2 linked regions of the Homo sapiens genome follow. The protein of the gene in region 1 purifies or fractionates together with the protein of each later gene. This does not show direct contact. Each region holds a gene or a part of one and is shown in the gene's direction. Other genes may lie near its edges.

Region 1 (4,491 bases):
GGGTCTGCTCGGATTTATGTCTTCCCTGGGGGCTCCAGGGCCCTAGTCAGGCACCTGCAGATGAGGTGCTGAAAAGGACAGCTCCCAGGGCGCTGCGTGGCGGTGGGGTGGGGGGTCCATCCGGCCCCACCCCCACTCCCACCTACCCCCTCCCCCACACCTAGTGCTTCCAGCCTTTCTACGTCCCGCCCAGAACTGCTAGGGTTGGAAGGCACCTAAACACCCATAGTTGGAGGCTCACAGCCAGGCGCCTGGACTGAGGAAGGAGGCTTGGAACAAGCCCCCCACCCCTTGACAATGTCTCGGGTTCCCTTGAACAAGCTCTGCCTGAAATATTTCAATTCTTGATTCTGCTTACTCCAGAGTCTGCGACTGTATAGCACCCACCCCTCTGATCTCGACCCCTTTGGGGTCAGAAGCAGTCGCCCCATGAAAGTTGTCTCATCCCAGAACCTGACGGCTGAGCCAGAACTCTGGCACTGACTCTTCAATCAGCAGGGCCTTACCTCAGGTTAGGAATGCCCCGGCCTCTCTCTTTCCCTGATACCCCAAAGCCATCTCCTGTCTAGGAAAGTGAGTTTGTCGAGGTGGGTCTTCAGGTAGAAAGAACTCCAGAAAAGTCAGAAGCAGACCGCGACTGGAAGTGGGAGGTGGGAGTAGGGGCCCATGGTTTTCTTTTCGCCCCCCCCAGGAAGGACGACTGCTATCCGATTTGAACAGATTTGCACTAATTTTGCAGCAATCCCACATGCCTTTACAAAAATAATATTATCTTTGTTTTTGTCCTAGAATCCTTGGTTCCATTTCAGTCTCCTCAAAAACGTAAAACAATTTAATAAAAAATGTCAAAGCAGGGTAATGTAAAAGGATTCAAATAAATGACAGTTGCCTGGGTTTCCCTGGCTTTCAGTCTCCTACAGGAACTCCTAGATTAGGGCGTTTGGAGCAGGACTCCCGGGTCAGGGCGCGCCGCTCCATCCTCTGGCCTCCTGGCTGCAGACCAAAGGACCAGAGGGCAGAGAGGTGGACCTGTCTTGGAATTCTCTGCCTACTCCCAACTCTTGCTGCAAACCACCCCAGTCTCCTGCCCTTCCGTCGCCAAACCCCTAGACTTGGGAGGGAATGGAAACCAGAACTTTGGCAGCAAGGAGCATTGCTTGCGCTTTGCCTCAGTTTCCAAAAGGTTCGGGAAAAGAGAGGACAGATTCCTGTTCTAAAGTTGGGCAGAAGGGCAGAGTCCGACAGAGCCTCGTCCCTCATCTTGGGTGCTTTGAGACAGGGAAAATCTCTCGCCGCGTCCAGAACGGAACGCTGGGCTTGGGGTGCGGGGCGGGGACTCCAACTCGCGCGCTACGCTACTCGTGTCTCCTGCTCGGATAGTGACTGTAGAGGTAAGGGTGGGAGGGTGGAGGGAGGCGGATTAATCCCTTAATTACGCCGTGATCGGCGTGGCACCTGCTTTCCGCCTGCCCAGCTCCCAGGGGACTCCGGCACTAGGGGGTGGAGAGAAGGACGAGGGAAGGAGGAGGGCACGAAGAGGCACCGACCGTACCCAGGCGCACCGGCAGGAGAGCGGCACCGTGGCTGCCGCAGCGCGCAGAGGCTGTGGAGGGGCTTACGGCTCCCAGCCCACGGGTCTCAGACCCAGGGGCTGGGCCCCCAGCCCCCAGTCCCGATCCCAGCTGGGTCGAGCCATGCTGCGCTACCTGCTGAAAACGCTGCTGCAGATGAACTTGTTCGCGGACTCTCTGGCCGGGGACATCTCCAACTCCAGCGAGCTGCTCTTGGGCTTCAACTCCTCGCTGGCGGCGCTCAACCACACCCTGCTGCCTCCCGGCGATCCCTCTCTCAACGGTGAGACCCTGCCTCTTGGGGATATGGGATCCTGGGATGGGGATGAGGTGAGAGGGCGGCGTGGAAGGGAAGGAGAAGCGCTCCTGTCCCGAGGTCCGGGATTGAGTGGCGCCTCCCAGCGCCTCCCTGGGTCGTGGGGTCTAAGGGATAATTTGGAGCTTCGAGCACATGAGTGGGGGTACCCGCGGGAGGTCGAGGGCTTGGGAGAAGATGGCTACTGAGTCTTTTTACACCTCCTTCCCTTCCCCTACAACGCCCACCCCAGGTGAGAAGAACCGTTGCTGGTAACGGGCAGGGAAGTCCGAGCTAAGAAAGGCCCGGGCCCAGCGCAGGGAGGGCAGAGGAGGGGGCACAGTCTCCCGCCGGCCTCGGCCAAGCCAGGTCACTCGGTGACCCACCCAGGCAGCTGGTCTTCGGAACCCCGAAGTTTCCCAAGAACTCACTTAGGACCAGAGGAAGCCAAAATGCTGGATGTGTTTGCTACGGAGGGGATAGGGGCGGCGATCATTTTAAGGAAACTTAGAAGTTTGTCTTTCAGCGGCGGGACTCTCAGCCGGCCCACCCCGGCAGAGCTGTGGCGGGCGGGCGGAGCTGGCGGCGAGGTCGTTACCGCTAATTACGGTGATTAATAAATGACTGGGACAGCGCGCTCTCCCCTAGCGCCGCGGGGAAGCTGCGGGAGCCGGCCGCCGCCAGCCTGCGGAGAGGCCGGAGCGCGCCCCCTGCCTGCCGCATCGGGAACCCCCGCTTTACCGGGCGCTTTCGCGTGTGGTTCCCTCCAGGTGCACGCGGTCCCCATCCCTCTGCCTCGACCCACTCGAGTCTAGTGACGAGCACTGTGCTGGGGACTCGAAGGTGGAGAGAAAGGAGACCCTGGCAATATGTGTGTGTTCATGTGTGGGGCACATCAGGTGCTGAGGGAGGAGCCCCAGAGCCTCATTAGCATGGCCATTAGCTATTCATTAGGCTGCAGTCGAAGCATCTCCTGAGACCGGGAAGGGTAGAGGGGGAAATTCCAGGGAAAGGGCGCCTGCAGCTGTGTCTACAGGAATTAGGGGGAAAAGGCCGACCAGAAGGGTGTGGTCCGTATAGAAGGATTGGGGAGAAAGACGATGGGGGAGGAGCCCGATTCTCCAACCTCTTGACCCTCCTAGATTTCCAGGAGGTTAAGCACAGATCCCTTCTCGCTGGCACCCCGCAGAGTCCCGCTTCTGCTCACCTAGCGCGTTTACAGAGTGTTTTCACCATACTTTGTCTCATCTAAGCTCGAAACTTAGTGAGGTATGCAAGGAAGGTGTTGACAGACACATTTTGCCGCCGAGAAAACGCTTTATAGAGTGAATGGTGCCCTAATCGTCACAAAAGCAGCATGAAGCAAAACCTAGCGATAACAGATCAGTCCATTTCCATTACACCTGAGGGCTATACCAAGGGGAAAAAAGAATATTGGGGCCTGGTAGAATTTGATTCAGGTAGAGACTGTAGGAGCCAAGATAAGGTGCATATGCTGGGAACACAAGCCCTTAAATAATGGCAGAGTAGTGACGTTTATCCCCCAAGGGCTTTACATACATTATGGTCTTAGAGCAACCCTATCACTGCTCTCACATCACAAAGAAAGAAACTGAGACTGAGAGAAGTTAAATAATTTGCCCAAGTTCTTACAGCTAGGAAGCGTCAAAGTCTGAGATTCCAGCCCTGGTTGGTTCAACAGCAACACTTGCTCTCAATCACTCCAGTGTTGCTCACCACGGGGTGTTCCAAAATTGGGAATGGGAGGAGATGGAGGAGAAGAGAAGGGTGAAAAGCAGAGATTTCCATTTGGAAGGGAGGAGATGGAGAAAATTACTCTCCCAAGTGGGACAGAAATCGATCTTCTTGACTCCAGGCAATTAAAATAAACTCAGAACAGCGCCAGCACGGGTCAGCCTGTCCAGCTTTGTCTACAACAGAACTTCTAAGAGGGGGGGCAGGAAATGAAACCCAATCTCACAGGCGGGCTGGAAGCGGGAGGTTCCTGCAGATTTTGGAACAGGGTAGGAAGGGGGGAACAGGGGGAGGGGGCAGGGGGCAGAACAGATGCTTGAAGTGGTCCCTGGTTATTTTACAGCAGGTTATTAAAGGCTGCAGTGGCACCTACTGGCCGCCACGGGTTACAAATCCACTTTTGTTGGCTGGACTAGGGGCTGAGAGTGCCGGAGTATAACAGGCTCCGGGATCCTAACCGTGCTGCAGAAGGTGAAACAGGCCAAAGTCTGCAGGCCAAGTGACAGGTAGGACAGAATATGTGGATGAACTGATCGGAGTGAACAGGGGAAGTAGAGGAACATCAATCAGTAGAATAATCTATTGGAAACTATGCACCTGTCAGGAAAAGGAGCCTTACTAACATTTCTACTGCTATTTGCGTTCAATTCCTGTGACTTCACAGGACCCTTGAAATGAAGCGTGATTATCCGGGGTGTCAGTAAGAAGGGCCCTGTGCCGATTCATAGAATCCAGGTTGACAAGCCCTTCTAGGCCCGGCCCTGTCACTCCCGTCTTGCCTTTCATAAGGGATCCCAAGCCAGTCCACATTCCCAATTTCACTGAGCCAGGACCTTGCAGAAGTCAAGAACAAACTGTTGGCTCCAGTGC
Region 2 (3,500 bases), on another chromosome or scaffold:
AATTTCTTTAGGATGTAGTTCCAGATTTAGAGTGACTAGATCGTATGCTATGAATATGTGAATTTTCTCATGGTCATTGATACATTGTTCATACCTCTGATGACATTCCAAATTAATCATCCCTTTTGGAAACATTGTATCTTTTGCACTACAGATTCTGTTTTATTTTTAACATAAAGGTAGTGTGTTTCTCTTAACATTTCCCACTGCCTGGAGTAACTATTATTAATGGTGACATTTTGATGTATGAGTATATTTGATTTATTTTTAAAATGGCATTAGCCCTTACATGCTATTTTTAAAAAACTTTTTATAAGGCCCAGTGCGGTGGCTCATGCCTGTAATCCCAGCACTTTGGGAGGCCGAGGCAGGTGGATCACGAGGTCAGAAGATCGAGACCATCCTGGCTAACACAGTGAAACCCTGTCTCTACTAAAAATACAAAACATTAGCTGGGCGTGGTGGCACGTGTCTGTAGTCCCATCTACTCAGGAGGCTGAGACAGGAGAATCACTTGAACCTGGCAGGCGGAGGTTGCAGTGAGCCAAGATCGAGCCATTGCACTCCAGCCTGGGCGACAGAGCGAGACTCTGTCTCAAAACAAACAAACAAACAAACAAACAAAAACAACAAAAAACCAACCCCCAAAAAAACCTTTTTATATACAAGCAAAAAAGTGCATAAATCATAAGTGTACAGTTGGATGAATTTTCATTAAATGAACACACTGTGTAACCAGCCCCTGATCAAGAAACAGAAATGTTCATGTCCTGCCGGGCGTGGTGGCTCACGCCTGTAATCCTAGCACTTTGGGAGGCTGAGGCGGGCGGATCACGAGGTCAGGAGATCGAGACCGTCCTGGCTAACACGGTGAAACCCCGTCTCTACTAAAAATACAAAAATTAGCCGGGCGCGGTGGCGAGCGCCTGTAGTCCCAGCTACTCGGGAGGCTAAGGTGGGAGAATGGCGTGAACCCAGGAGGCGAACTTGCAGTGAGCCGAGATTGCGCCACTGCACTCCAGCCTGGGTGACAGAGTGAGACTCCATCTCAAAAAAAAAAAAAATGTTTGTGTCCCTTGTTGCTATCCTGTCTTCCTGTTTTTGTTTTTTGAGACAGGGTCTCACTCTATCGCCCAGGCTGGAGTGCAGTGGCCAAGATCTCGGCTCAATGCAACCTCCACCTCCTGTGCTCAAGTGATCCTCCTGCTTCAGTCCCCTGGGTAGCTGGGATTACAGGTGTGCACCACCACACCTGGCTAATTTATGTAATTTTTTTATAGAGCTGGGATTTCGCCATGTTACTTAGGCTGGTCTCGACCTCCTGGGCTCAAGCAATCCTCCTACCTCGGCCTCCCAAAGTGGTGGTATTACAGGCATGAGCCACTGCAACAGGCATGAGCCACTGCACCAGGCCTTGAATATCGTGTTTTAAACTTTACTAACCTGAGAATAAAACAAACAAAAAGAGGGTATCTTATTGTTTTAATTTAGAGTTCTTTGATTTTGATTTTGTTTGTGAATGACTTATTCAAGTCTGTGGTAGATTGTATTTTTGCTTCAAAATGTTACCCACCATCCCTCTGTGGAGTACATTTCCCTGCCCTTTGACCTTGGAGTTTGGCCACGTAGGATAGTTAACTTGTCCTGGTTTGTTTGGAATGTTCCTGATTTTAAAACAGAAAGTCCTGTGTCCTGGGAGCCCTCTTAGTCCTGGGCAAACCAAGCAGGTTGGTCACTCTATTTGGCCATGTGATTTATTTTGTCCTATGGGATGTTAGGGAATATTAACATATGCCTTGTTGAAGCAGAAAATGTCAAATGCATCTGTGTGGTTTGGCTCAGTCTGTCTTGTGCTTCTGCCCTCTACCATGAGAACAGCCTGGTTTTCAGAGATTTCTCGTTCAGTCTGGGTCCTGGAATGAGAAGACACAAAGAATAGACTCACAAGTGACTCATAGCCCCCATGTAACATGAGGGAGAAATAAATAAATGTTTTGTAAGTTGCAGAGATTTTGGGGTTGTTTGTTGTGTGGCACCATTGACTAATGCCATGTGTTACACCAAATTTTCTTTGGATTTTTTTTTAATGATTTTTTTTTTCTTTTTTTGAGACAGAGTCTCACTCTGTCGCCCAGGCTGGAGTGCAGTGGTGTGACCTCGGCTCACTGCAACCTCCGCCTCCCAGGTTCAAGCGATTCTCCTACCCAGCCTGGCAAACATGGCGAAACTCTGTCTCTATTTAAAAAAATAATAGGCCGGGCACGGTGGCTCACGCCTGTAATCGCAGCATTTTGGGAGGCTGAAGCAGGTGGATCACGAGGTCAGGAGATGGAGACCATCCTGGCCAACATGGTAAAAACCTGTCTGTACTAAAAATACAAAAAAATTAGCTGGGTGTGGTGGTGCACACCTGTAATCCCAGCTACTCAGGAGGCTGAGGCAGGAGAATTGCTTGAACCAGGGAGTCAGAGGTTGCAGTGAGCCGAGATCGCACCACTGCACTCCAGCCTGGCGATAGAGTGAGACCCTGTCTCAAAATAATAATAATAATAATAATGGTAATACAAAGATTAGCCAGGCGTGGTAGTACATGTCTGTAATCCCAGCTACTTGGGAAGCTGAGACATGAGAATTGCTTGGATCCAGGAGGCGGAGGTTGCAGTGAGCTGAGATCACGCCACTGCACTCCAGCCTGGTTGACAGCGAAACTCTGTCTCAAAAAAAAACATTGAAAAAAAAAATTGAAAAAAAAAGTATTGTGATATCAATTTGCTTTTTTCCTTAAAATTAATTTTCTAGACCACAGTTATGTACCTTAGAATGGATAAATAAATTAGGATATAAAAGGCTTCTGATTAAATTTGTAAGTTAATCAACCTTTTTTCCTGTGGACATCTAACAGTAGGAATAAATGATAGTTCCCTTAATAGGGGAAAGGTTCAATTCTTACAAGGTGGCTTTAGAAACATACGACTCTCAGTCCATGCCCTGAAGTGACAATAGAGATCTACAGACGTGTCTAGTAGTTAAAGTTGGTGCTCCTCGTGTGACGAAGTCTGCACCTGTCTTTTATGACAGTGCATTGTGCACGTAGCTTATGGCACACACAGGCTTTTTCCCTCACTTTCACCAAGTTGCCTTATGGGTTAGCTGTGGCCTTGCTTTGTCATCTACTGTCTAATTATGGCTTTAATCAAGATGAGAATCAAGTAAAAGTTTCTTATCGCAGTTCCAGAGTCCAGGATACTGATGCTTTGAAGTAAAATGCTGTTTGTTTTTAAAATTTCTGTTTTCATGTCTTTTTTATGTGGCATATGTTGAGTTTGGAAAAGCTAAATCTTGAAGACAGAATTTCAGTAGATTAAAAAAAAACCACAATAGAATATTATAAATAGAATTTTCTGATGCATTTTCTTGGATATAATTGAATTGTTAATATCTCCACCAAAAAGGAGATGGTGATAGAATATGGCTTACAAATACATCTTTTACCAGCTTTT

Evidence for each region. The genes of interacting proteins can lie anywhere in the genome.
Region 2: the proteins of ROBO3 (region 1) and CTPS2 purify together in Homo sapiens (affinity purification with mass spectrometry; one large-scale study listed by BioGRID and IntAct). This does not show direct contact.

What each region holds. Positions count from the first base shown.
Region 1 is NC_000011.10:124,863,884-124,868,374, forward strand, and holds the start of ROBO3 (roundabout homolog 3 isoform a precursor), read left to right. Parts: upstream 1-1,548; 5' UTR 1,549-1,694; coding exon 1,695-1,854; intron 1,855-4,491. UniProt on the Homo sapiens protein: Receptor involved in axon guidance during development. Acts as a multifunctional regulator of pathfinding that simultaneously mediates NELL2 repulsion, inhibits SLIT repulsion, and facilitates Netrin-1/NTN1 attraction.
Region 2 is NC_000023.11:16,699,170-16,702,669, reverse strand, and holds part of CTPS2 (CTP synthase 2), read left to right. Parts: intron 1-3,500. UniProt on the Homo sapiens protein: Catalyzes the ATP-dependent amination of UTP to CTP with either L-glutamine or ammonia as the source of nitrogen. Constitutes the rate-limiting enzyme in the synthesis of cytosine nucleotides.